Linked DNA regions of Homo sapiens: regions 1, 2, 3, 4, 6 and 7 are each reported to be linked to region 5. Evidence: microRNA targets listed by miRTarBase, many of them from high-throughput screens and not tested one by one. Region 5 holds a microRNA gene; each other region holds the end of a gene's coding sequence.
The links. Region 5 holds the annotated microRNA hsa-miR-548az-5p (CAAAAGUGAUUGUGGUUUUUGC, at 1,500-1,521, opposite strand). A microRNA usually pairs through its seed, bases 2 to 8, with sites in the 3' UTR of a target mRNA and lowers its output. Matches are read on the target gene's strand: a 7mer-m8 pairs with bases 2 to 8, a 7mer-A1 pairs with bases 2 to 7 and ends in A, and an 8mer does both.

Region 1 (4,068 bases), not on the chromosome of region 5:
AAAACAATGCAGATAACACCAAACATTGGACAATATTAAGAAAACTACTTACTAAGCTTAGGTAATAGAGGCAAGGGTTAAGGGCAGAAGTGATGGAAGTGTTTCTTTGTATTACAAACCCTCACCCTAAACCTGGGGTTTGGGCTCTAAAAAAGTAATTTAGGGAAGCAGATCAAGAGCCTGATTATCAGTTCTCACATGGAAATCTCAACAGATTTCAAAAGCAACTCACCACAAGTGTCAGACACAAAAGAATCTTAATAATCATCTAGCAAACTACACTAAGAACTCAATGACCAAAAATAATCAATCAAACTTCAAGACACACCAAAGCAACAGTAAAAGAGAAATAACTACACAAGCTAAGCTCTGTAGAGAAATCAACTAAAAATTAGGCAATTCTAGTAAATTAAAGACAGCAAAAAACTTAAGATTGAACTTCAATTTCCAAGGGTACTTTGAAGAGGTTGTTTGTAGGTTATTCTGTACCCCCTGATTCTTAAAGAAAGTGGAGGAGAGGGGGAGGCGACAGAGGAATGGAGGGAAAGGGGGAGGCAAGAGAGAGAAACAGGAGAGGATCCCTGGTTTTCCACAGGTATTTTATCAAAAATGTATGACTTCATAACTACAGCACTCTAACTTTTCTCAGTCTAACTGCTGAGGTCTCTTACGAAAGTTCAAATGGCAAGTCACCTTGTAGAATGACTTAACAGAGGAAGCCAAACTATACAGACCAGGGCCTTGTCCAGAGTGCAGTAAGGAGCAGGCTTTTGAAGTCATCTATTACATCTGCCTTACAACCAAACCCACTGTGTATGCCACATTATTCTTGGAGGGACCACTTTAAAACAAAAGTGATGGATAATTTACCAGAGGCACATGCTTTTGAAGTAAAGCTGTTTTTTGTTTTTGCTTGAGTAAGGTGCCAGGTACCTCTGAAGCCTGAAAACACAGGCAATAAAATTCACCTATTTATCTTCTTTACCAAAGAGAAAGCAATTTCTGAATACTATCTATAGTGCTAAACTAATGTGAACTGACTATCATTGCGATAAAAGTTTTTCCTTATGATGACAATAAAGAATGTTGCTGAAAGACTTTAATCTTGAGAGAGCAGAGGTAATGTGATGAATGTAATTTGCTCCCAGAGCCTCTAGAAAATAAAGCAGTGTGCAAAATACAATATGGCATTATTATTCCAGCTAGGTTTTTTGCGAAAATAAGGTTCCAAATGAATGAAGAAAACAAAATTTGATGCGCTAGGTTCCTTAACTTGCTATTGGACACATGGGTATTTCAAAAAAATCCACCGTGCCTACAATACTTGTTAAAGTACCAAAAAAGCACTGATACTGAAACACATTCTTTCATGGGTACTTAACGATTACAGATTAACGTGGCAATCAGAATACAAAAAAGGCCCAGAGCTATGTGGAATTTTTTCCTTAATACCTTTCAAGTTTGTCTGTGAAGACGGCAACTAGAAAGTGACCACTGTCCTAATCTCTAAAATGCAGGGAAAATGTACTCAAACAATTTTTTTTTTTATCTAGTCATTTATTTTTGACACAGAGTCTAGCTCTGTTGCCCAGGCTGGAGTGCAGTGGCACAATCTCGGCTCACTGCAAGCTCCGCCTCCTGGGTTCACGCCATTCTCCTGCCTCAGCCTCCCGAGTAGCTGGGACTACAGGCGCCCGCCACCACGCCCGGCTAATTTTTTTTGTATTTTTAGTAAAGACGGGGTTTCACCGTGTTAGCCAGGATGGTCTCGCTCTCCTAACCTCATGATCCGCCCGCCTCGGCCTCCCAAAGTGCTGGGATTACAGGCGTGAGCCACTGTGCCCAGCCAACAATTAAGATTTTAATTGTGTTCTATTTTGTATTGATACTTGATTTTAAGAACCCTATTCTAGTCTGGGTTTTTATTTTGGATCAGCAATTTAGCTTACACAGTCAGTACTGAAATGCAATGCTAAATTTAAGGAAACCTTGATCATGAATTCACTATAATGTATTACTGAATAGCAAGCTATTAAAATTGTGCAAAAAGTAAAGCACTTCACAGACTAATAACTGAACTTAATAAAAGATGTTGGTGGATCTCATTTTCACTGTTTCATGTACATGTCCTAAAATGCCAAGTAAATTAAACAACTTTTAATTTACTAAGTGTAAATTAAAAGTATCAAATGAAAAACATGAATTAAAAAAATTTCAGTCTACCTCCACCAGAACATCACTTTATTGTTAATCTATCATCAACAATGTAAAACTCTAATAGATACTCTATCTTGGTTTTTAAAAAGGTAAAAGATTACACTGGATTAGCTACTTTCTATGAAAGAAACTACAGCTATCACAGAAGAGGGAAAATTTGAATGACCTCCAAAAAAAATGCACACTATAAGCAAAAGGGAGTGTACATTAAATCAAATGTCTGTTAGATTCATTACTTTTGAATGCACAGTGACAATTCTGGAAACTGTACATGATAGAATCACAGAAATGACTTAAATAACCGGAATTACATTTTGTGTGTGATCATCAGACCTTTAAACAATCCTTGAATTTTCCATGTTATCAGAAGTTGTTAACAGCATCGAGACGGAAGTATATGAAATATAAGGACTGAAATAAAAGTGAATTTGAAAGATGGCTAATCTACTAGATTAGGTAAAGGGGGAACGGGTAAGTGGTGGGGAGGAGTAGGGAACGATGGGGTGGTTTTTTTCCCTTCATTTCAGAAGTAAGTTCTTCTACTGTAGTGTATCTGTTACATAGCTCTCCATTTTCAGTCCATTTCTGAAATTCATATCGCATAGCCTTTAGCCTTTTTCTACTTACTGGTCAACCCAACCAGTACTGTTGCCAAGCAACAAGTGTTACACGAGAATCTGAATGCATCAAATCTTCCTTGGCTGTGATTTCTTCGCGACCCCAGTTTTCTCTGTTTCTGAGTGGGGTTTGTTTTTTTCCTGGATTGTACACACAGGGTCAGGTGGAATGGAGTTCCAAATCACTCTGTGCTCCGCGGCATCCCGATTTCTTTCCGCAGCTAACCTCCCGACACGTCTGCTGCTGTTCTGTGGCAGAAAGACAATCTCCGTGTTCAGGCGGTGAGCTTGCTTTCCTTCACCCTTGACCCTGGGGTTGCAGGCCATGGTGTTGGGCGTATCCCTGAGTGCAGCTGTCCTGCGGGATTCACTTCCTAGTGCACCGAGATTTCCTAGGTTTCCTCAGAGTAAGCCCCCAGTTGCATCACCACCGACTGTGGTGTGGCTTTGGATGCCTGAGGCTGAGTTGATTCTGGTGGATGTCTGACCTCGCTTAACCAGACTCATCTACTGTCTTGCCATTCACACCCAGGCTGTCCAACCTTCATACAGCTGAGCCAAGTTATCTAGATTAGTTGCTTCCTTAATGACATAGTCAACCTGTAAAAATAGGCAGGATAGTATGTAAAGTCATTTAAAGCTTTTCAATTGTCTGCTGAATTACAATCAGCAGACAAATTATGCCAAAAGTTAAGTGCAAAGGACTCTATACTTACCCTGCTCCTGTAAGCCCCTTAATTTTCATATAAAATGTAATAACTATCAGAATAAAAAGCACAATAACCAAGTATACTTTAAAAAGAGAGCTAAGACAGTTATAAAGATATGAAAAGCACACAATCCATTAACCTACCAGAACGTTTCTTAAGTAAAAATATCCCAAACTCAGAAAATCTCTCATGGTTTTTGACAAACTTGACAAAACGGTTTCTTAAAAAAAAAAAAATTCTTGCCCAAGAAGAGTTCAAGTCTAGGTCCTATACAAGAATATAATAGTGTTTAAAAGAAAAAAAAAATTCCTTGCTGATGTTAAAATTGAATTACGGATGCCAAACCATGGAAGAACAGGATATTCAGTCTCTTAATTTTTATCCCACAGGAAAAAAATGTACATTTATAATGAAGACATCAAGAGGATACCTCTCTTGACCAAATGATCTAGCTTATCACCACCAAAGATGGCACAAACTGACATGTGTCTCTTGATGTAAAATACTGAGAAAGAAACATCACT
Region 2 (4,000 bases), not on the chromosome of region 5:
CGCACCTTGGCCTGTTGCTCCTAGGGTCACTTGTGCCATTCAGCCAAGGGGACGACCGTGCCTGCTGGCCCAGCTGAGCTCCGCCCAGTGAGCCCACCCCCCATTCTCCTGCCACTGACTCTCGCTCTTCTGCTTTTCCCAGCAGGAAGGGCCCAGCCTCACCTACGAGACCTGCAGCCCCCCGACCAGCTGAGGCTCCCCTCTTAGACTTATAAGTCTATGGCCACTGGCATCCGGCTGCCTGCCCTCCCTGCCTCCCCCAGGGTCCCTTCAGAGGGTCCTGGGTTTTCTGAACACCCAGAGGGGCCTCCGGCGCTCCCTCCAGCCATCCCTTTTAGTTTCACCCTCCTGGTTCAAGCAGTGTTCTTTCTCTATCAGGCCTGGTGGCTGTTGCATGGGGCTCCCCAAGGCAAGGGGTGGCCCCAGGCCAGTGGGTTGGAAGACAGGGTGACCAGAGAAGAGGGAAGCCCGAGGGGGCCGAGCATCAGCCTGAATTGCGGGTGCCCTGCCTGGGTGCCGTGTGAGAGGCCAGCGTGTGTGGGGTGGGGAGGGCCGCCACAGCCCCCAGGCGCTATCTGTGAAGCTACGGCTCCTCCCTCCATCTTCCTCCCCTTTCCCTTCCAGCCCCTTTTCCAGGAACCTTGCCACACCCACACCTGCAGCCTCCCCTCCCCGGCCCTCCCACCACTGCTGCGGCGCGGCCGGCCCCGGCCGTGTGCTGCGCTTGCCTTACCAGCTCTCTCCTCGCTTTTCTCTCCCGTTTTCTCTCTGCTTTCTCTCCAACTGCCAGCCGATCGGGTCAGGCAAGTCCATCCCGTCCTGAGAGCCCCAGGCCCCCCTTCGACCTCTAAACAGATCCCTCCTCTTCTCGGAGACCTCCCTTTCCAAGCCTGCCTGGACGGCTGTTCTGTGACTTGACAGTGGCTCCCCCAGCCCCAAAGCCAGCCCCCTTCATCTGTGACTTAATCTGTTGTAGTGGTGAGCTGATACATTCAGGTGTGACCGTTGGTGAAAACTTGTGCCCCTTCTGTGGTATGCCCTTGCCCTGTTCTATAAATATCTATAAATACTCATATATATACACACCTACACATGGCCAACCGCCTCGCCTCTAGCGCTGGGAATCAGTCACTGTGCTATCCTTGTGGAGTCTTGTGGCCCAACTACCAGAGAACGCTGTCCCCCGACATCCCACTCCAAAGTGTGCCACCTCCAGTGAGCCTCCTTGTCATGCCCGGCCTGTGGACAGCCAGCCCCCGCCATCCCTCCCACCCCCTACCAAGCATGGGGGTGCTGTGCAGGCAGCCGTGTGGCCTGACAGTTTCTACCAGTCCTGCTGTCCCTCGGCTGAGAATAAAACCCATTTCTGGATGATGGGGAATGTCTCCTCTGCTGGTTGTGTTCTCTCTGGAGCTCAGGGGAGGGGAAGGGCTAAGCCATTACTAGGGTGCTGCTGGGGGTGGTGAAAAGACCACATCTTTTCCAAGGGACATTTTTCCTGGAAAGCCCCTGGAGCTTAGGGGGCTCTCATCCTGTGAAGCGGGCTCTGGCCACTAGGGGGCAGGGCCATTAACTCAGCCTGGAGGGCGCCGGCAGGGCGGCTGGCATTCTGGAGGGACAGACAGAACAGGCCACCAGGCTCAGGCAGGCGAGGGAGGCAGGGGGACAGAATGGAAGACACCTGGGCTGGATGGAAGTCAGTGCCCTTGGGTGCTGGCATCCTGTCTTCCTGGCCACCGCTAGATCAGGCTTCTGAGCCTGTTGGCCATCGGGGCCAAACTGTCCCCATAGGTACCATGGTAGTCCCCGTGTAATCCCCAAGATGTCACCAGGCAGCATACAGGTAACAAGCCTGGAAGGTCCCAACAGCCCAGCTGCACATGCTCAGACACTCTGGGGCTCCCTGTTCAGTGGCACAAACTCCAGGACCCAGTGAGAGAAACAGGAACACATCAGGCAGAGCAGTATGGCTAAATCCATTTATTCCGAAATAAAAAGCAAAATAAACAGGAGTCGCATCACCAGGGCGCCACGACCCCATCCCCGCCTCCTTCCTCTGTCCTATGCTATCAATAAATAAGTTTCCCAGCCCCAAATAATTATTAGAACCTCCTCCCCATGTGCCAGCTCCAACCTCTGCTAGGTATGATACAGGGGGCGGCCCTACCCCTGGAATATACAAAATGTTACACAGATACAATATGTACACTGGGGAAGCAGGGCCACCCCAGCAGCCCGTGCCCTCGCCTGGTCTACAGTTAGCCCCACTGTCCTGCCTCAGCTGCCTCTCTGTGTAAGAAGATGGGAGCCCCCCTGAGGGAAAAATTGCTTTGGTGAGAGTAAGGAGGCCATGAGGCCTCTTCCAAAGAGGCCAATTATATGAGCCTCTGGCTATTAAATAACAATCATCATCATCCAGAAATTTAAGGAGTCAGCCCTGGCCAAGGTGGCTAAGGGTCTACACATTTGTCTCCCCCCATTAGACAGGGGTCTTATTTGCTACTGTAAGAGTAAAGGGATGACTGGGAAGGGGTGGCAGGCACATGATGGGGGCGGAGCCTCCGGCCCCACTTCTCCAGGCTTTGCTGACAGTGGCCTGCTTTTTAAAATTTTTATCCTGACTTTCTTTAATCCCATAACTTTTTTCATAATTTTTTTTTTTTTTGAGACAGAGTCTCACTCTGTCGCCCAGGCTGGAGTGCAATGGCGTGATCTCAGCCCACTGCAACCTCCACCTCCCAGGTTCAAGCGATTCTCCTGCCTCAGCCTCCCGAGTAGCTGGGATTACAGGCACGTGCCACCATGCCTGGCTAATTTTTGTATTTTTAGTAGAGACACAGTTTCACCATGTTGACCAGGCTGGTCTTGAACTCCCAACCTCAGCCTCCCAAAAGTGCTGGGATTACAGGCGTGAGCCACTGCACCTGGCCTTTTTTCATAACTTTTATACCATAAGTTACCCATAACCTTTTTTATCCCATAACTTTTTTTAATCCCATAACTTTTAATTTTTTTTTAATTTAGTGGCCAGCTTTTAGATGACAGTGATCTTCACCTCATCTGCACCTGTCTACCCCCGTTAGACAGGGGTCTATGCTTGCTACTGTAAGGGTAAAGGGTTGACTGAGAAGGGATGGTAGGGATATGGTGGGGGCAGGGTATCCAGCCCCACTTCTTCAGGCTTTGCTGACAGTAGCCGGCTTTTAGATGACAGTGATCTTCACCTCATCATTCTCGTCAGCCCGGTAAAAAAAAGGAATGCAGGGGTTGCTGCCCAAGCCTGGGCGCTCCCGGGGGTTCTGCATCTCACGAAGCAGCTGCATGATCTGCTGTGCAGTGGGGTTGTCACGGGGAGAACCCTCCCTGGCCTCTCCTTGGGCAGGCTCCACACTGCCGGCGAGGCTCACCTCGCAAAGATCTTTGGAGAGAGAGAGGCAGGGCTCTGAGTGCCACGCGAGCCCTCCCTTACTCCTGCCTGCCCACCCCTCCCGAGGGCTCTACTCACCACCCTGCTGGTTGGCAGCCCCAAGTTCCTGGGGGGCTGGGGCCCCTGAAGTGGGCTCATCAGCAGGGTTCTGGGCAGCTGCCAGGAATCTGCCATGCCACTCGTTGCGGTCGCCCACAAGCCGTAAGACCAGCTCCTGCAGCTCCAGCAGCTTCACCTGGAGGGAGGGGTGCTAAGCTGCCATGCCCATGCCCGTGCCCACCTCCACCCCCAGAGATGTTCCACACCCTACCTTCATCTCCTCCTTGTCTTGGGCCAGCCTGCTGATGTACTCCTCCTTCTCCCGGTGCCGCTCCTTCAGCACTGCCCTCTGGCTCTGGTACAGTGCAATGTACTCTCCTGCGGGAGGACAGGGCTCAGATGCTGGGTTCCCTCCGACCGCTGTGCAGCTCCTCCTGCCGTGCCCTGGCCTCCCACTCACCAATGGTGTCTGTCTCTCCAGAAAGCTGGATGCAGCGATGTTCCAGTTCCTCTACCCTCTCCTTCAGGTCTGCC
Region 3 (4,078 bases), not on the chromosome of region 5:
GTAAATTACACATTTAGTTTTTAGTGACTTTAACATGTTACTGAAGCATTTGAATATAAAGCTATTTTAGTTTTGATGGCTTAACTGTTCCCTGAGGAGTTGAGGGTTATTGACACTAGAGAAATGAATTCTCATTTGATCCTAATTTTCCCCGTATTCTACTTGAACACATTAAAAATACTCTGCTGCCTATACAATGTAAACCTAGGAGCATTAAGACTTGTCACACAGTAAACCTGATACATCAGAGGTGAATACCAGCACCTATTAGGTTTCATTTTGCTGTTTTCAGGAATGTAAGAACACCCATATTGGCTACTGGAAATTCTAGAAGTCAGTCAGGTTTTAATTTATTCCAGGAGGGGCATCCTCGACATCTTATGTAGATGATCCACAACTTCAAAATTTAGTCTGGGCCTAGTGCAGTGGCTCACACCTATAATCCCAACACTTTGGGAGGCCAGGAGTTTTGAGACCAGCCTGGGAAACATCTGTCTCTACAAAAAAATACAAAAATTAGCTGGGCATAGTGGTGCATGCCTGTGTTTCTAGCTACGCAGGAGGATTGCTTGAGCCCATGAGATTGAGGCTGCAGTGAGCTGTGATCGTGCCACTGACCTCCAGCCTGGGGGACAGAGCAAGACCGTGTCTCAAAAACAATTTAGTCTGAAACACAATTGTGCTGAATCTGTCTGACTATAACTCTGACCACACAGAACCAGGGCTGCCCCTGTAATCCCCACAGTAAGAAAGTTGTATGGCATATTCCAACAAGTATTGGTTCGTCTGGTGTCTTTAGAGCTTTACTCTGTTGAAGTGACTGATTCTCAACTGAACATTATGTCGTTACTTTGATAAGCATTCCACTTTTGTTATTTATTAGTGCTATCTTTTTTTTTTACGTGTTAAATCTTGTGATTATTAAAATAAAGTACCATTGTAATTTAAAGTGACAAATGGGTATGAGAATTCCTTGCATAACAGATTAAAGAATTTGTAAACGGCAGATTTGCTATAACTGAACACTTGGTCTAGCTGTTGCCAGTATGTTACTCCTTTGAAATATACTCATGATGTAAAAAGGGAAATGGATCAGAAACTATACTTTAAATCCAAACATTCAAAACTGAATGCTTGCTTCTACCAACTTTTCTTCCGGGTCCTGAAAATATTAAGGGTTCCCAACATGGGAGAAAATACAACCCAACATTAGGTGATAAAATACACGTTTAAACTCTACAGAAATTAGTTCGAAAGAGATCTTTGAAAAATCATTTTAAGAAGGCAAAGTTCCAAACAGGGTTACACAGGAGTCTACTCAGTTTCCTGGCCATACAGGATTAACGCTGTGCCTTACGTTAGAGCAACAAACTTGACTGTCCGTGTATATATAGGTGAGGGACAAAGGGTTTCTGCAGCCAAGCACTGCACTCCATTCCGCTGCCTGGGCGGGCCTTGAGCAGGAAGGTCCCTCTTGCACCACCTCCTCCACTTCAGTTCAGCTCTCTCATGTCTTCCACCAAGAGGACATGGTCTTTTTCCACACAGATCACATGGGATGGTGAATCTTCTTACTCATGAAAAACAGCCCAAGGTACTGCTAATTTGGGACGTTTTATTTATTGGAAAGGTTCTTTCAAGGGAACTTTTCTGCAAGACCAAGCAATGTATGTATTTTTCTTTGGTAAATTACAATTTACATTGGCACAAAAAACACATGGTGACTAATGTACTTTGCTCTAGGACAATTAAAGAAAATGTATTTTATCCTCACAAATCCAGTGAAGCCTTCATTTTATTTCTAAAAGTTTAAGGAAGGTCTAGTCTACCAGTTATAAAAATGAAAACCAGTTCAACTCTAATATAAACATTATTTACATTTGTTTATAAAAATAGATTTGAGTTTAGGAAAAGTTGAACAACTAGTTATTTTTACTTCAGTTATTAGGTACAATGAATTCCTTGATTTTTCAAGGCTGACCCTGTTTCCTTGGTTAACAATTTCAATTTAGGCCTTATAGGAAAAAACGTAAGGGATCCTTTATCTGCCTCCAACTAGGTAAGTTATTTGATACCACTGACAGCTTAAAAAGTAATGTCCTAACCTTTCTGAAGATTCTGGTTGCCATAACCATGCTACTACAGTCTGTTGTTAGTTTGCTCTATTAAAACTAATTGGTCTGGAGAAAACCTACCTGCAGTTGTACGAGGCTGTTACTGGAGTAGCAGATGTTAGCTGATCTAACATACTTGGAACCAACTGATGATCCCATAAAAAATGCCAAAAATCCAATAGAATCAAAGCAACTCAATGACATTTAAGAAAATAAAAACTTTCTAAAGGGGGTATTGCTTTTTAAGTTTCCTATTTTGTTTTCATATTTGGGCACAGCTTTGTAGCACAGCATTCCCTTATGCATGGTTCTCAAATGCACTGGGATAGGAGAAAATAAAGACAATGTAGTGTCTTGGTTTCTTTTGCCCCCAAAAGCCACATTCATTCCGTTTAAAGGACTCCTCTTATTCAGAGATAGATTGTCCTTTCCTTTTATGAAAAAAATGGTGATAATACAGTGATTTATTCGGATTACTTGGCAAGGTAAATTGGCAACCTTATAGTACCCCAGATTTTTGGAAATATTACTACCGGTCCATAAAATACAAAAGTCTGGGAACCACTGCCATGTACAAGTTTAGTTTTGCAGGCTGTTAACAAATGTTAAGTGGGAAAAAGTTTCTGTGGCCAAACATCTGGGAAATGACAGTACAGAATTTCATGTAGTCATGTGAATCAATGGCAAGTACGCCTCCGTTCCCCAAAGATGGACTACTGAATGCACCCCAACCCACTGTGAACTGGAAAAACAGAGAACTAGAAAACATAAGAAATCCGAAGCACGATTCCTCTGACTTTGAAACTGCAACAACCTTCTTCATTTCAGCATTTCAACAGTCTGGCCTATGACTCAGCTGAAGCTAAGGAAATGGTACAATCAGCAACATTATCAATATTAAACTTTTAATATCAAATACTTTTTTTACATCATTACTAATTTATATAATTATTATAAAACAAACTTCAAAAGCTCCATGAAATCAGTAAGGTAAAAGTCCTTACTGAATATCATATAAACATCAGGTGTTACCAGGCTTGATTTCAGGAAATGTCACTGGTTTGTGATAGAAATTACCTATAAAACAATGTGGTATAAATGAATATCTGAATTTTACAATTATGTGGCTACAGTTTGCCCATTACTCTTCATAGGTATTACATCTTTAAAGTTCATTTCCATTCACACATTTTTGCTGCTGAAGCCTCGTTCTTCTTAAAGACTCTAGCTGCTTTGCTCTCAGCCATCGTTCTCTTGACAGCGTTGTCTGACCAGCACTGAGAGACAGACACCTGGTTTGAAACACAGAAACAAATTTAAGTCTAGAGCTGGGATAGTAAGTTTTAAATTTTTTTTAAGACCTAGGAATACTTTGTGAAAACACAGAGCACGTTAGGAGACAAGACCGTATGGTAGTTACACACAAGTCAACAGCCAAGTTAGGCTTCTAAAAAGAAATCGTTGAAGAGTCAGAATTGGAAAGTGGCTCACTCTTTGAAGCTTAGAGAACAAGCAGCATGCCTGTTCCACTGAAGAGATCACCAGCCAAACTCGATTCCCCCTCAATGAGCCCTTTCATACAGCGTTTTTAAAAGGAAAAGTTCATTTCCGTTTTTAGAATTCTGCCTCAGTTACTGCTGAATAACTCAGAAGACATATACACAAGCTTACCGAAACAGCAATAATGGACGTGCGCCACTTACCGAGCCACCACGAGCAGCTGGTGAAGATCATCAGCAGTGATGCTCTGAGGGTCGTTCTTCCGCATTTCCACAAAGTCATCTTCAACTGCCTTTATCAAAAGAGTAAATGTAAATGATGTGCATTTTTGTAAGGAAAAGAAAATTAACATGGTTCCTTGACTGATGTAGTAAGGTGCATGTCAGCCTCTTAGACAAAGGAGGCAATATGGGTGAAAGTACCAAAGCATATACATACATAATGCTGCTGATGAAAATAAAATA
Region 4 (4,065 bases), not on the chromosome of region 5:
GGTTGTGTTTCAAGGGATGAGTTGGATGATACTGTATTTTGCTTTTTTCTGCTCTCTGGAAGAATTTGTGTGGGACTGGTGCTGTTTCTTCCTTAGATGTTTTGACGTAAGTAGTGATTACCCTTTAGTTTAAATGCTTAATCTGTTATTATTTGTATACTTCTTGGTATATGTAGAAATAATTTTCAAAATGAACACTTTTGCCAGGCACAGTGGCTCACACCTGTAATCCCAGCACCGTGGAAGGTCGAAGCAGGAGTATTGCTTGAGCCCAGGAGTTCAAGACAGCCTGGATAACAGTAAGACCCTGTCTCTACAAAAATATAAACAAAATTAGTCAGGTGTGGTGGAGCACATCTGTGGTCACAGCTGCTCAGGAAGCTGAGGTGAGAGGACTGCTTGAGCCTGTGAGGTTGACGCTGCAGTCAGCTGAGATCACGCCACTGCTCTCCAGCCTGGGGCAACAGAGTGAGATCGTCTCAAAAGAAACAAACAAACAAAAAACACTTTTGAAGACATAAGGTAGGTTAAAAAAATCCTTTGTAATTAGAAAATGTGTCACTTTTTTAGCTAAGAGCAATATAATCATCTCACCCTAATGACTAGACTAGGAGCCTCACCTCTGGCCTGGACAACAGTCTTTAACACGAATTTTCATCATTACCATCATCACCACTGACATTTAGCAGGCAGGACTATTTGCCAGGCACTGGGCTGCGTGTGTTGCACATGTCATTTCCTCTAATTATCACCATAAGCCTCTGTGGTAGCTACCAGTATTGCCTCCCACATTTTGGCAGAGAAAGCTAAATCACGGCAAGCAGTGTCCAGGATCCAGGACTTGAACTCCCGTAGTCTGACTGCAGAGTGTGCTCTTCACCCACATGTGCCACAGTCCTGGGGAGGCAGCATGGGCTGGTGGGGACAGGAAAGAGGGACAACCCGGGTTCCCACCCTACCTCTTCCTCTAACTGGTTGTAAGACCTTGAGCAAGTCATGTCATCCCCGTGGCCTTGGTGTCCTTGCCGATAAAAAGCAAGGGTTCGTCCAGACAGTTGTTTTGAAACTCTGCCCGAAGGGCCTGGGAGCTGGAGGGAACACCTTGAGAATCAGGCAGGAGAAGCAGCCTTCCTTCTTTTGTATCACAGAATTTTTATCTGTCCAAAATTCATGTTGAAACTTAACTGGCAATTTAAAAGTATTATGAGGTGGGGCTTTCAGAGGGTGATAAGTCATGGGAACAGAGCCCTCATCAATTCAATTAGATGTCTTTATTAAAGGGCTTGACAGAGGCAGTTTGTGCCTTCTTGCCCTTCTGCTCTGTGAGGACACGGCATTCAAGAAGCCATCTTAAAAGCAGAAAGCAGCCCTCACCAGACAACTAAACCTGCTAGCCCCTTGATCTTGGACTCTCGGCCTCCAGAACTGTAAGAAAATGAATTTCTGTTCTTTGTAAATTACCCAGTCTGAGGTATTTTGTTACAGCAGCACAAAAAAACTAAAACACAGAGTGACCTTTTCTATAGGATTTGAACAAATGGTTCTGACCATCTGACTGCTCATCAACTTCTGAGGTTCCTCTGTTCTAATGATTCTACTGAATCACAGAATCATTAGAATGAGTCTATGAATAGCCTATGATTGTATTATCCATCCCATTATCAAGCTCCTAATTAGGTATGGACTATATTCATCTAACCACAGAAATCGTCATTACAGACAAATGTTCATTTCTCTAACTTTTCTAGAATAAATCTCAGCTTTTATAATGATACCCAGATATCCTAAATTTTACCATATGATAAATTCCATTTAGAAACTATTTTCCCCCCATAAAGCAACATTCTTCTGTATAATACTAATCTTTCCTTACTTTCCACTTAATTTTAGTAATGTTCAGCACAGAACCTGATACACAGTAAAGGCACTCAAGTGACTGCTGAATCTGAGTAACAGTAAACTCAATCCTCAAAGATTTAAAAATCAAAGTGTCAGACAAAAATTTAACTTTTTATGAGATTTCAGTTTTTGAAATACACAACTCTTACAGCACAAACACAGTATTTACATTTCAAGTTCTTTGTACAAAAGATGTATGCCATTTTGGAAGAATATTGTTGAGATCATGATCTAAAATACCTGTCAGAGTTACTCATGGAATCTGCTCTTCACAAATCCATTGTATTATGACATAAAATATGGCTAGACGCCAAGGTTTAACCATACATAAAAATACTAATTCTCGGCTGGGTGCACTGGCTTATGCCTGTAATCTCAGCACTTTGGGAGGCAGAGGCAGGTGGATCACCTGAGGTCAGGAGTTCAAGATAAGCCTGACCAATATGGTGGAACCCCCGTCTCTACTAAAAATACAAAAATTAGCAGGGTGTGGTGGCATGCACCTGTAGTCCCAGCTACTCAGAAGGCTGAGACAGAACTGCTTGAACCCGGGAGGCGGAGGTTGCAGTGAGCTGAGATTGCGCCACTGCACTCCAGCCTGGGCAACAGAGAGAGACTCTGTCTCAAAAACAACAACAACAACAACAACAAAAACTAATTCTCAGTGATTGGCAAATGATGGCCTGAGGGTCACATCTGGCTGGTGGGCAGTTTTTGTACAGCTGCAAGCTAAACATGGTTTTTACATTTTTAGAGGGTTGTTTGAAAAAAAACAAACTAAACAACAGCAAGAAGAATGTATGACAAAGACACAGGTGGCCTGCAATAATTTACTAACCAGCCTTTTACAAAGAAAGTTTGCTGGCCTCTGTTCTATCAAAAACCAACTGAGAGAGATAGCTACTGGAATATACCAATGAGTATTAAACAAGACACCACTGTAATGTGCCAGTGCCATCAGCACTACTCATTTCTAAAATGAGGCACTTCTGTTTGAATATGTACATTTCCAAAACATAATTACATCTGGTAAGTAGTACTAACTCTAGCCCTTTGAAATTAGACCTGCACGTGAAATCATAGCATTCTTAGGGGCTGAAGTCAATAATTACAAAGCATTTCAGATGTCAATCATTGAGCTCTTCAGTAGTTAGTGGTTTAAGACCATTTACAGTCTTAAATATTAATAAAACTCATAATTTAGGTATTGTCAATAAGAGGTGATATTGCTGCATTATTTAAATAACATCTATAAAAATAGGTTTAGACATCCCAATTCGTTATACTCAGAAGCAAGAATAACTAGTTAACTTAGTAACTACTTAAAAATGGGAAATGAAAAAAAAAAAGTGCAAAACTTTAGCAAAAGGCTTTGGAATGCAAAGACTGGAGCCTCTTAGCAATCACTCCCAGCTGGCATAGGCTTCTCCTAATAAAGTTAGTCTGCAATGATTGCTGTGGGAAATTAACAGCTGTCTCTTGTCAGTGAGCCTTTTTATAAAAAGGATGACAGGTCCATGAGCAAATTCTTTAAAAGTAAAATCAGTTCAGAGCTGCTCAACACACAAGTTTTCAGTGGGTTGGTTAAATAATTCCTGGTCAGTGGGCTATATTCATGCCACAAAACAGCATGGTACTGGATATTTTCCTTCTTCGGGCCAAACTGCTAAGCATCACATCACAAAGACATCTCTGTGAAGCTGAGTTTTAAAATGCTCAGTAAATGCTGAGGTAGATGGTTTTCAAATGAAGATCTTCTATACTCTGATTCGATTGGGACTAGCTTCTTTGTGTATCCTCCTTCTGGGAAATATCTTCCGCTTAAGTGCAATTAACTAAATGATGAAAGACAGAAAATACATTTTAATTCTCACGTTGATGAAAGAATATAAGTGCATCAAACTTTCTAAGAGCCATATGACCTTAATCATTTCCACAATCTTATACATTAAAAAGACAACAAACAAATCTCCATCATTCCTCTTCCAAAACAAAAACAAATATTAGTTTTGTTTAGCTTTGTAGGGACAGTATGCCTAGATATGTGCCCACAAAGAGACCCAAGAGGATTAAAATTATTTCGGCCCATGCTTCATTTTTCTAAGACCTACAACTACAGATTTTTACACAGCTATTACCAAAGCATATTTATTTTCAAGATGTCCA
Region 5 (4,078 bases):
TATCCTATCTCTTTCATATCAGTTACCAGAAAGGAAGTGACCTCTCTTACCCAAGGCCAATCCCTCCTAGGGCTCTGCCTTATTTATCCTCTCTCAATCTTGTGTTGTTAGTTATCTTTGCTCTCTCTCCTGTACCTATAACCACACCATAAGGCATTTTTATAATCCCAAATTCCTTATTCTTTTGGCATGCATCGTGTCATGAATTCAGAGGGATTTGTTTCTTGCTACACTAATCTTCACAGAAAACCTTCCTTGAGTAGAATTAACTAGCACATCAGCTAGGCATATGGACTTTTTCTGGGCTTCCTTTTATTTTTCCCCCAGATGATTTTCATTAACACATTTCAGGCTACTGTAGATTGCTTAATATGTTAATTAAACACATTAACTTTCTTGTCAAGAATCTTGCTTTTTGATTACTTACTGTTGTGCAAGCATGCTACATTGCAGACCCTTCTAAAAAAGCCCATGAAACACTGTTGGGTAGGGTCCACGAAATTACACATTTTAGCTGAATGTCTAGCCAAGGGTTAAAGTCAATATTCAGCCTAAGTTGAAGTTGAAGATGAATATCACTTCATGGCATGAACTTCTGGGAAAAAAGAATAAATATTAAAATTTCCACATTTTATTTTAATTTTGTCATTAAAAATGCTCAAAGTCAAAGTGTATAATTTGACATTACTGTACAACACAATGATTTCCCAGCCTTCTCAGTGGAGGTCAATACACTAAACCTGTGTAATCCCAATACAGTAGACTCTCACTTTCAATTTAGATCAAAGGAGGAGCAAGCTATTCTGTTTTGAGCTCTGCCATTGTAAATATTGATGGTGAAATGGACCCTAAGATAAGATTTTCTGGGAAGAATTGCAACATATAAAGCATATATGGATATTAATTTTTACTCCAAGTCAATTTTGAATATATTTGAAAGTGAATGTTTAGGTAGTAATACTACACTTTGAATGATATGCAATCCTTCTAACTAATATTTTTATGGTGATAATAATTTTGGTTGTCTCATCCTTGATCATCAGCAAGTTTAGAGTTCCGGAGATGATAAGTAAGTCTTTCACTATTCTTCCAAAGAGCAAGCTTGAATCCCAAAACAAATTTTGTAAAATTTCCACGTCAAATCAAATTCTGGTACATTTGTGTTGTGGGTAATTTCTTATTGCATAGTATCCATACTCTCAACACCTTCAATATCATTTACTTTGTTGATCAGCATATGCAGTACCAAAGGAACTTAAAGTTGCCAAAGCACACAGGCCGAGTCTGTCTTCCATATTCTTATTATTGGTTAGTTGTTTTATATGAATGATTATAAGATGGCAGTTTTGATAGACCAGTCCCATGCTACACCACTGAAAGTGCTCTTGCCAGAGTCACCAATAATTTCTTTAACTGATCCTCAACTGACTTGATCTCTGTGCAGCAAATTTATTAGGTTGGTGCAAAAGTGATTGCAGTTTTTGCCATTAAAAGTAACAGCAAAAACCACAATCACTTTTGCACCAACCTAATACAATCTTGAATATTCCCTACTTTGTGAAATATTTTTCCCTATTATTATTACATTTTTTAAACTTTCTCTAATTACTCTGCTTTTTCCCAGTTTGTTTTGAATTTCCCTGCTTTCTGCTAATCTCTTGTATATGAATTTTCTTCCAGATTCTAGCCTAGATAGAATTTTTATTTTTTTGCTTCACGTAGCCTCTCTTTGAGGATTATATTTTTCATACTCACAAATTCAATTATATAATTTCAATCATGATTCTCAAATCTATATCTTCAGCCAAGATATTTCTCCAGAGCTTCAGATCTAATTTGTTAGTCACCTAGTAGATATCACCACATAAAATCCTATAAATATCCCCCTTTAGTGTCCTTTTTATCAGTGAAATTACCACCATCTACCTAATTATAAAAGCCAAATACCCAATAATTTTCCATGACTTGCCCTTTTCTCATTTACTTTTTATATGTAATCAGTTATCAAGCCTTGTGTTTCTATTTGATAAAATGGCTCTCCTTTTATTTTTTGCTTACCTTCATCTTTTGTTATTATCATAGTTCAGGCAATCATCTTTTGTCTTTAGTCTCAAAACACCTTCCTTTCTGGTCTTCCGTATTTTGAATTCATTACTTCCAAAAATGTTTCTATTGGAGCCAGAGGGATGGTTCCAAAAATCCAGTCAGATCATAGCATTATCCTGATTAAATATCATCCCCCATTACATTTAGAATAATACTTTGGGGGTTATTTATAAACTGCCTTCATTTAGCCACTCAATCCCATCTTTTTTCCTTCTCTCTTGTTTTCTCTGCTCCAAACATTCTGAAATTTTCTTTCTTTCTCTGAATAAATCATGATTATTCTTACCTCTAGGCCTTTGCACAAATAAAAGTTTTGATGAAGAAGTTTCAAGTTAATGGTTTGTGAATGTAAGACAATTCTATTTTTTTTTTCAATAACTGTTGCCAGGTTTGCTTTGTTGAATTCCTTCCCTGCTGGGCAACAAGAAACAGTGATATCTCAGTTTGACAAATAACTTTTTATTTACTTCTGATTAAAAATAGTCTTAATTTGGGGTAGTAAAACTTTCCTTTTTTAAAAGCTTGTGCAGGGCTTCTGTATAGTATACGTATTGAACAGGGTTTATGTGTCGATATGGATAGGGTTGGATGTGTTGTTGGCTTTCTCCCTCTCTTTATCTTTTTCCCAGTGCCTGTTGTATTGATGATGATGTAAAGGGGTGTGTGCATGTTGTGGGTGGGGGGGTGTGAATGTGTGTACGTGTGTGCATGTGTGGATGTCTATGTAGTATGAAGGGGGAGATGGTAGAGGAGTGGGATGTCTTTGCTTATGCTGTATTAGTGATAGTGAGGTGTTATGGTTGAATCACCTAATACACACTGTTTCCTTATGTCTGGTGTTGTTACTTGGTCTACACTGAGAGAAGTCAGATGCCAGGTTTAGAGTTATAATAAGATTGATCTGATTTTTGGAAATATCCTTCTGGCTAAGTTGAAACCCATTAGGAGTAATCAATTAGAAATATAGGCAGTCTTCTAAGGCTGACAAAAACAATAAATTGGGGAAGGACTCCGTATTCAATAAATGGTGCTAGGATAACTGTCTAATCATATGCAGAAGAATGAAACTGGACCCTTTCATCATATACACAAATCAGCTACAAATGGGTTAAAGATTTTAATGTAAGACCTCAAACTATAAAAATCCCAGAAGAAAACCTAGGGAATACCCTCTTGACATCAGCCTTGGCAAAGAATTTATGGCCAAGTCCCCAAAAGCAATTGCAGCAAAAACAAAAATTGTTAAGTGGGACCTAATTAAACTGAAGAGCTCTCCACAGAAAAAGAAACCATCAACTGAGTAAACAGACAACATATAGAATGGGAGATAATATTCCCAAGCCATGCATCTGACAAAGGTCTAATATCCAGTCTATAAGGAATTTAAACAAATCAACAAGCAAAAACCAAATAACCCTATTTAAAAATAGACAAAGAACGTGAACAGACACTTCTCAATAGAAGACAAGTGGCCAACAAACATGAAAAAATGCTCACCATCACTAATCATGAGAGAAATACAAAGCAAAACCATGAGATACCATCTCACACCAGTCAGAACAGCTATCATTAAAAAGTCAAAAAACAGCATGTGCTGATGAGGCTGTGGAGAAAAGGTTACACTTAGACACAGTTAGTGGGAATGTAAGTTAGTTTAGCCACTGTGGAAAGCAGTTTGGTGATTTCTCGAAGAACTTAGAACTACTATTTGACCCAGTAATCCTATTACTGGGTATATACTCTTAAGGAATACAGGTCATTCTACCAAAAAGAGACATGCACTCATGTGTTCACCATACTATTCACAATAGCAAAGACATGGAATCAACCTAGGTGCCCATGAGTGGTGGGCTGGATAAAGAAAATATATGTATATCACATGTGATATATATATATATCACATATATATCACATTTGATATATATATATATATCACATATATATATGATATATATATCTCATGGAATACTAC
Region 6 (4,078 bases), not on the chromosome of region 5:
TACTACCACCAGATGGCAGTATAGTATCAAATGTGGAAAGCGGATAGACACTTGCACTGATTTGCTTTTTATGTCTCAACAGAACGTTTGCACCTACACTTTAAATTGCATCCCGTGCTCTGCAACTGCTCCTGGTTTTCTTTTGGCAAGACAATCTCACTCTCTTTGCCCAAACTCTGAAGTATTACAGGCACCAGCAATGCGGTCAGTGCAGGTTAAGAAACTGTAATGTGCCATGGTTTACTCCTTAAACTTTCTTATCAACTTTTTTCCCTTCTGTTTCATGGTACTTTCAAATTGCATTTATTATAAAGCAAATAGAAAGTGTTTCACATAACTTCTCCCACAAGCAATTTTAATGAGCTTTGGCTTTAGTAATGGTTTTAATCATGTTAGACTTGATCTTCTAGCCACACAGCAACCACATCAACCCCTCTCCCAATTTGACAAGATTTTGAAAAACTAACACTTGTTTTATGTAATTAAAGACACACCTGTATAGCACACAGAGGTGTTCATTTGTCTAATGCAATTGGCCAGATAGAGACTCGTTTCTTTCTTCCACCCTAAAATCAATTTTGGGGTTTTGTTCCCTTAGTAGATACCATCTGAGTACTGGCAAATATGCAACTCAAGTTTTAGCTTTAAAGGCAAAGAACCAGCACTTATGTCTTAATACCATCTCTAAAATCAGTCTCTAGTGATGACAGATGCAGGTCTTTTTATTGAGAACTGTCCTCAGAATTTAAATTGGGTTTTTTGTCAAATAAGTTCGCTTAAACACACATACATCTTGAGTTATCGAATATAGCATTTTATAATGATATATTGAAGAATAAGGTAAAAAGCTTCAAAGCTGGACATTTTCCCACTGTGCTATATAGTTGAAAATGCGTCAATAATGACAATACTGCTACATGAGAAAGCCAACATGCTAACTTGTGTCTTGTAGCTTTCTCTCCATCCTTCATATGTGGTAAAGACTCTGGGATCTGCTCTCAAAATTCTACTTTATAACTGAATATAAAAAGTTTATGGCTGGCATATGTATACTATACATGAGTCAACACGTGGGTTAGATGTAGGCCACTGATAGGTACCTAAGTTACAAAATAATTCTTTAATGAGTAAAACTACTGGAGAGGTGAACACTTTTACAGTGTCTCTGGCTTTAAAAAATAAGATTGGCATGATAGCTAAAGCAGGGGTTCTAATTGCATAACTTAATTAACACCGAGACTTACTCTGAAAAGGATCTGCAAAATGTTACTACTATGGAGATCCTATGCGAAGCCTCTTACATGAGAAAGATCGGCCAAGAAAGTAGCGTCCACTCTATTAAAATTTTTTTTAGCCACTAAAGATTCCTATTAGGTAAAGTAAGGAGAACAAACATTTTAGCAGGATGTGCAGAACAAAGCCCCTCCCATCCCACAATGATTGATGCCCCATCATTAGCAGGGTAGCTGCCCATTTCTTATCTTGATTGACAGGTTAATAAGGGACCTGGGGCTATCTTTTCAGTATTAACACACAATCTTACCAATTACTTTTAAATTATTGCTAATCTGTCAGAAAATAACAAGCATAAGGAATAAAAATATCCGCGAAACAGAAACGTCTGCTGAAGCAGCTTTTACTTCCGGTGCCTTAAAAGGTTCAGTTAGAAAACTTGCTAGAATTTAGTCAATAGAATTTAGGCACCGGCAATTTTTTTAAAGAAAAACTTGTAGTTTATAATAGTTCATTGGTTCAATTAGGAGCGAAAAAGAAGGGAGTTTTGTAATGCAATTGTCCAGCAAAGGAAAACGCTTTAAATTGGGGGATTATGTGCGCAGACCACCTGTGGGGCATTCAGAGCCCTTTTCTATAAAGCTTCAACCCATGCCTAGCTGCCTGCAGGCTGGCTAACAATGCCGGGAAAAGCTGTTTAAAAGGCTGAGCACTTGTGCCTCCGGTCTTCACTAACTGTTACAAGTCTTCCTCTCTCGCGCTCTCTCTCCTTTTTAAAGTAAAAGTCCCACATCCCTTTAATGGAAGAACTTTAAGGCTCCGCGGTGGCCAATTGGTCTGCACTAAGAGGAGATAGGCAGCAGGGAAAGAAACTTCAGACTATACAGCACATTTGCAGAGGAGAAAAGATCAAAGTTTTTCAAACTCAAAAGACCAAGTTCCCTACAGATTAACCCTATTCATTTAGCTCCTCTTAAAGGAATGATGTGCTGAGCCACTGGGCAGACAGGTAAAAAGTTCAACAATTGCCGAAGCATTCTTCTGCTAATTCAACAGCCTTCTGCTCAAATAAATTAGCTTAGTCTTGACAGAGGAACAATAGCTTTTTCTCTAGGAAAAGCAGCACATTTGGTATACACAAGCACTGAAGGTTATTAAGATGTTAACCCGTTAGTTTAATCCATTGAAGAGCGCCTGCTCCCCTACCAGATTGTCAAGTGACTTCTACTGTAAAGGGTGAGCTATGGTTTAAAACATTAACCTCTACACCTCAGCAATGCGTTCCCTCCCTGGAACACCAGGTGCTTTCAAAATCACGGACTCCAGAAATGAATGCAGGGTTTTGAAACCTTTAGTGATACCATGCAGGATAAATAACAAGGCCTAAGGGGAATTACTGCCTTGCAGAAGTTCCATTTACATCCACTAAAGTGAGAGTTGTTATCCATGGATCAGAAAAGAGCTCCCATGAAAAACACCGTCTTTGGGGAAGGTGCAAAAACTCAATTTTGATTTCAGTTCAACAATGATATTTACTTGGCTAACAACTTAAGAACTAGAGTTTAACAAGTAATTTTCTCCATGCCTAAGGTCAGTGTACAGAATGACAAGCCAGAAAATGTCCATTTTCCCCATGCGTCCTTAGCAAGCACTTTAAAGGTGACAGCTCAGAAGAGGCGGGGGAGAGGGCAATGGTTAAATCATTTATCAAAAGTCATTTTATTGACAAAATAGAATACTTATATCTGTTCTTACAGGGGTAAGCCTCTAAACTTTTTACAAAAAAATGTACACACTATATCTTTGGATATATACATATTTTACACTTTTTTTTTTACAATTTAACAAATAATTATATAAATACATCCTCTAATGTAAGAAACCCGTATTTACGTGGGGTGTATAATTAAGACATTTCTTGTTTGTTTACTTAAGGCATTTGCCTGGTCATTAAGAATACCCAAACCGTGCAATCCCATCAGGTGGCGGTCACCCCTCCTCCAGGGTAAGTCAGGGGTGGGAGTTTACGTAGGAAGAGTCGAGGGAGAAAAAGAGGTTCTCCCAGGTGAAATCTGTGTATCTGACTGCAAACCCAGCCAAGTGCAGCCAGGGAGGGCTCCAAATCTCGGGTTCTGGAAACGCCGCAGAGTCCACCCTCCTCAGCCAACAGAAATTAACGCGTGGCGGGAGGAGCTCCCCGCACATCAATGGAGGAAAAGGGGCTGGGTCTGGGAGGCTTCAATGCCAGGTACTTTGTTCTAAGTGAGTCATTTAAGTCCCAGCTAATGGATACCATTAAGAGTTCATTATCATGCTAATAGCAATCAACACTGTGAAGGGGTGGGAACCTCAGCCCATCAAGTGTCCCTTCGCTGCACTTGGCTCTCCTCGCCCCCCTCCCCACCCCTCCTGGGCGCCCCCTCCCCTCCGCTCAGACCTGGGACAATGGCATCTGCTTTGGATAAGACACGGAGCTCGCCGTGCCCGACCGCCACGTCAGGCCAGTGCTGACGTCGCTGTAGAGGGAGCCCCCGCCGCCGCCCGGCCCCCCGCCGCCGCCGGGTCCCCCGCCGCCGCCGCCCCCCGGCCCGCCGCCACCCCCCGCGGCCGTGGCGCCCGCGCCCCCGCCCACCGCGGCGCCCTTGCTGGCCCAGCAGCAGCGGGTGCACAGGGAGCGCCAGGACTCCAGCGTCTTGCCGGACCAGACCCACACGCCCGAGGTGATGCCCACCACTAGGCACATGAAGTACTTGAGCATGAAGACGGCGTAGTCGGGCCTGCGTGCCTGGTCGGGCTGCAGGTCCCGCAGGCACGGGCAGTTGTGCGTGGCCTCCCAGCGCGGGCG
Region 7 (4,078 bases), not on the chromosome of region 5:
TTCTCTTTCAAAGGGGACTAAAAGTTTATTGATTCTTTTAGTTAGGCCAAGAAGCAAAACATGGTATAGACTGTGAGAGGAATTTTTGGCAGAAGAAAAATTGATTAGTATTGGTAATTCCTGCTATGTTTCTGTCATAAATATTTGTTTTCAATTTTGACAGGTATGAACATAGACAGTGAAACTAAAGCAAATAATGGAGAGAAGAATGCCCGACAGAGACTTCTGGATTCTTCTTGCTGATGATTTTTTTCCTTGAGCTGTAAATCTGTGACTTCTGCGACATGGGATTTAATTTGGCTAAAGCACCCCTGTTGGTTTCACAGCTGGTTTGCAATAAATGGTTCTTGGTGGAGATACTGAGCATGTCTTATTGAGTCCCTAATGGAAATGGTGATCAACAAAAGGTTATGGAAGAATGGTTTATGAACTTCCCATAGGAAGCACCTGAGAGATAGTAAACTGCAGCAAGTAACTATGTGTAAGTCCTCATCAAATGAAAAGCAGAAAGACAAGAACAATTAGTCAAGAGCAGTAGCCCTGTCAGAGCCTCGGAGCAATACCTTTCTGTACCCGTGGTGAGACAAGACCCAGAGCTACTGGAAAACAAGCACTTTGGAAGATTTGTTTTGTTTTCATGGAATAATAATATGTCAGGGTATAATTTAACGTGAGTTTCTTATGTGCCCTTAAAGACTGTTAGACAAGAAAAGCATTCACTGGCTAATAATCCATAGGTCGACCTATGTCCTAAGTTAGGTGTAAGGTCCGATGCCTTGGCCCACACTCGAGCTCTCTTTACATTGTTAGTTGTCAACCTTGGCTGATGGAAATCCCGTAACCACTATTTGTTGCACTGTGCCTTGAAGGGCAGCAGGCCCAAGTGCTGCTCTGACTGAAAACTGAGTTAACAAGATGAAATCTAAAGGATATTCACAGTGACTTCAATTCAGGAAGAATGCTTCCAAAAGAGCCCAGTGGGGAAATCTGACATCACAGAAGACATTAATTCAGTCACTTTCAAAGAGTTTGTCTACAGGCGGTTTCTCTGTTATCAAAGGCATTTGAAATAGGATTTTACTTAAACAATAATGGAACACAGGAGTATTTAAAGTGAAGAACACTTTGCCTGAATGTGATCAGGGCACATAAGTGACATTGGCATGCTTCATATGGCGTGCTTGGAGCCAGAAAAACTTAGCGGTTTATTTTGTTTATATTTAAGCACAGCTTTAAAAAATTCATTATCGTTTATTCAGTGTCCGAATTGAGGCCATTTGGGAAGAAAATTCTAGCACTGGTGGAGAATTATAGAATAAAGATTATAAATGGTTGGATAAGACAAATGTAAGCTTATTTCATAAACATTTAAAGCTGATTCAGAACATGTTAAAAACTGTTCCCAATTCCAACTATGTAAATAGATCCTATGTTCACATTTTACACACACACACAAAAATCTTTAACATCTGTGGAACTTCCCAGTTTTAGTCTTAGAAAGTTAGCATGTTGCATAAGTTCAGTAATCCTCAGGAACCTCCAAGTTTACTTTTAGCTCTTACGGACAGTTGTTTACATAATCTAATTACTGTTTTCTGAAGAACGGAAATTATATAAGCTGCTGTCTGCCTTTTGGAATATTCAGAAAAGCAGATTTTATTTGTACTTCTGTGATGTTTTCTGAAATGGAAAGCTGATGATAAATATCAAAGTAGCAATCAGTGCGTTAAATTATTCTGTTACATGATATTTATTACTGTTGAATTATTCTGTGACTTAGAAATGGCAGTAACCTAAATAATGGAATTTGCAAAATTATTATATTGCCGTATCTGAGATGTTCCATCACAAGTTTCTACACTGGTTTCTTTTGAAAATTTAAAAAGATTTACGAGATACATTTTCTAGGATATGATTTTTTTTTTACAAAAAGCTTCATCTTCTGTAGACTATCCTTAATTTCTATTTTGAAACGGTAAAAATTGATATTTTAGGACACCAGGAAGTCTCCAAGCCATTCCCACTCTCTGAACTCCAGTAGGGTCTGTGATGTCCCAGGCACCAGTACCAAGTTGGATGTGCAGATATGCATAGGCAGGTCCCATCCTTGAGGACTTCAGAGTCCAGTAAAAGGCAGCAGAAACATGGGCTGGTGCCTAAGAGGAGAAAGCGTAGCCACAGTAAAGGCTATGCCAGAAAACTCCTAGCAAATGCTCTGTGTTCTTGGGAGAGGGCACATTGTTTTTGTTTTCTCTCCTATAGTTCCTGTAACTGCTGGTTTTGAGAATATAGTAATCATTTTTCCCAGAGGCAGATGACCACCTTAAGGTTCTTTAGCTGCAAATCCTCTAGGTTGAAGTTTGTGTGAAATAGTCACAGTGATTTTGAATAGTAAGGAATCCAGTTGCCTTTTGAACCTTCCCTCACAGGGATGAGAGAACAAGCCTGTGGAGGTTGTGGAGCTACTGGTAAACAACTGTCAGGGCCCCAGAAGGCTGATGTGGAGGCCTGGGGATACATTTCATCTAATAAAAGTATTACTAGGTATCAGTATCAGTAATAAAAGTATTATAATAAAGTATCAGTAATAAAAGTATTATAATAAAAAGTATTATTAGGACAGGTAAACTCATCCATCTACTGTGAGCTGCTGGCTTGGAGAACGACTTTTGAGGAGCCAGTTTCCTGAGGAGAAATGCTTTTATAAAGCACTCATTGCTTTGTAAAAGGAGACAAAACTGATCCTAAATGACCACTCCAGGGTTGCTGATTTTGTTTCTGGCTCATGTCTGCCTAGTAAACCACCAGCAAGCTGCTGAACCAGGCTGGAAACAACATTGTTGCAACTGGGAGGGACATAGAGTACTGTGAAAGCAGCGTTCCAACACATCTTCACTTTTACAAAGGGATAGGCAGAGACTTCCAACATAGAGGTTCTTAAACTTCGAGGGGTTACAATCCCCTTGCAAATATTTTTATAGCTATGGACCCTCTCCTCAGATCTACAGCCAACATTTTCAGTGCACCTTAGGAGGTCATTTTAGTCCACGCCTCTGAAAAAGCTGCACTCCAACGGCTGAAGAGCAAGCCATACGGCCGAGAATGGGGCTCCCTTTGCCTTCATGAAAGCTACTTCCCCCAACACTAAGACTCAGCTGTACGTTTGCTTAGCTCAGTCACATTTACATTCTTCTGGGTGAACTGTACCTTTTGAGTACCTGCCTTCATTTTCTAGAATCAGACCTAACAAGGTCAGTAGAAGCCTGGGCAGCAGCAGGCCTGGAAAGACGAGGCAGCCAGCATGAACTGCTGTTCTCTCCCTGACCACAAGGCGTCGTCTTCCTCCAGGGTCAAGTAATTGTTCTTGTTCCGCCTCACAGGAATGTGGGGAGGAAGGACGTAACACTATAAAATGCTGCGTCCTACCTTAAACTTGTACTGTGAGAAAGCTGGAAACTTCCACCTGTACAGTGGGTCTGGTTTGCATGTTTAGTTTCATTTGTGGGAACTGCTTGTCCAAGAGTGAGCTCAGGTCAGGGCAGTTTGTGCCTATGAGAATTAGCTCAGCTATCAGGCAGGTTTTTAGACACCTTTTTAAAATGTGCTCGTGTTTGGTTTGTTTTGCTTACTGTCAGTCCTGGGTCAATCAAAGGTTTGTAAGGGTGAGAATTTTTATGCACTGCTATATCGCAAGTGCTTAAAACAGAGACTGGCCCAGATGAGGCATTCTTCAAATGTTTGTTGAAATGAATGGACAAACTCTTAGGATAAATCCTAATTTGTTGGCAACTGTTATTTGATTTTAGAAGGCAAACTGATTTTATTTTAGAGAGGGGAAGGGGAGGGGAGGCTCATTAGCCTCTTGGTAGAAAGAGGACTATTTCTGCAAATGAATAGGTTTCCACCTTAAGTAGTGACAGTCCTTAACTTCTTATTATGGAGTGAGTCTTGACCGCTTTCCAAGTTCAATAGAAGTTCAAGATTGCCTCTCAGTGATTAGGGAAATTGAAGCTTTTAAAGCTCCTGGTCTCAGTAATTCCTCAGAATAAACCTCTTTAAAAGGGATATTGATGGAAAT

Region 1: miRTarBase lists SMG1 as a target of hsa-miR-548az-5p. Seed matches in the 3' UTR shown: 8mer at 2,635-2,642, 7mer-A1 at 2,178-2,184, 7mer-A1 at 1,053-1,059 and 7mer-m8 at 851-857.
Region 2: the mRNA of GOLGA2 is a reported target of hsa-miR-548az-5p. Seed matches in the 3' UTR shown: 7mer-m8 at 2,890-2,896.
Region 3: miRTarBase lists MCMBP as a target of hsa-miR-548az-5p. Seed matches in the 3' UTR shown: 7mer-A1 at 3,106-3,112 and 7mer-A1 at 1,803-1,809.
Region 4: the mRNA of GNPTAB is a reported target of hsa-miR-548az-5p. Seed matches in the 3' UTR shown: 7mer-A1 at 3,431-3,437 and 7mer-m8 at 3,245-3,251.
Region 6: the mRNA of FZD8 is a reported target of hsa-miR-548az-5p. The part of its 3' UTR that is shown has no 7-base or 8-base seed match.
Region 7: miRTarBase lists PANX1 as a target of hsa-miR-548az-5p. The part of its 3' UTR that is shown has no 7-base or 8-base seed match.

The regions. Positions count from the first base shown.
Region 1 is chr16:18,806,213-18,810,280 of GRCh38, forward strand. SMG1 (SMG1 nonsense mediated mRNA decay associated PI3K related kinase) reads right to left here. Exons shown (of 63, transcript NM_015092.5): 63 at 1-3,434. The coding sequence ends at 3,357. Among named protein-coding and RNA genes, the nearest start is that of ARL6IP1, 6.7 kb to the left of the region's middle.
Region 2 is chr9:128,253,864-128,257,863 of GRCh38, forward strand. GOLGA2 (golgin A2) reads right to left here. Exons shown (of 27, transcript NM_001366244.2): 24 at 3,927-4,000; 25 at 3,738-3,844; 26 at 3,506-3,662; 27 at 1,966-3,418. The coding sequence ends at 3,204. DNM1 (dynamin 1) reads left to right here. Exons shown (of 22, transcript NM_004408.4): 22 at 791-1,381. The coding sequence ends at 851. Among named protein-coding and RNA genes, the nearest start is that of MIR3154, 11 kb to the left of the region's middle. RefSeq lists enhancers at 1,188-1,692, 1,693-2,195.
Region 3 is chr10:119,828,195-119,832,272 of GRCh38, forward strand. It overlaps MCMBP (minichromosome maintenance complex binding protein), which reads right to left. Exons shown (of 16, transcript NM_001256378.2): 15 at 3,818-3,906; 16 at 1,246-3,406. The coding sequence ends at 3,280. It overlaps INPP5F (inositol polyphosphate-5-phosphatase F), which reads left to right. Exons shown (of 20, transcript NM_014937.4): 20 at 1-953. Among named protein-coding and RNA genes, the nearest start is that of MCMBP, 43 kb to the right of the region's middle.
Region 4 is chr12:101,743,508-101,747,572 of GRCh38, forward strand. GNPTAB (N-acetylglucosamine-1-phosphate transferase subunits alpha and beta) reads right to left here. Exons shown (of 21, transcript NM_024312.5): 21 at 1,992-3,734. The coding sequence ends at 3,657. It overlaps LOC124902997 (a long non-coding RNA gene), which reads left to right and starts at 483. Exons shown (of 2, transcript XR_007063424.1): 1 at 483-522; 2 at 1,281-1,460. RefSeq lists enhancers at 251-340, 461-570.
Region 5 is chr8:119,322,633-119,326,710 of GRCh38, reverse strand. MIR548AZ (microRNA 548az) reads right to left here and starts at 1,540; the gene lies at 1,446-1,540.
Region 6 is chr10:35,635,681-35,639,758 of GRCh38, forward strand. It overlaps FZD8 (frizzled class receptor 8), which reads right to left. Exons shown (of 1, transcript NM_031866.3): 1 at 2,567-4,078. The coding sequence ends at 3,665. Among named protein-coding and RNA genes, the nearest start is that of MIR4683, 3.5 kb to the right of the region's middle. RefSeq lists enhancers at 774-2,634, 1,815-2,437, 3,124-3,985.
Region 7 is chr11:94,180,627-94,184,704 of GRCh38, forward strand. PANX1 (pannexin 1) reads left to right here. Exons shown (of 5, transcript NM_015368.4): 5 at 164-1,342. The coding sequence ends at 243. Among named protein-coding and RNA genes, the nearest start is that of PANX1, 54 kb to the left of the region's middle.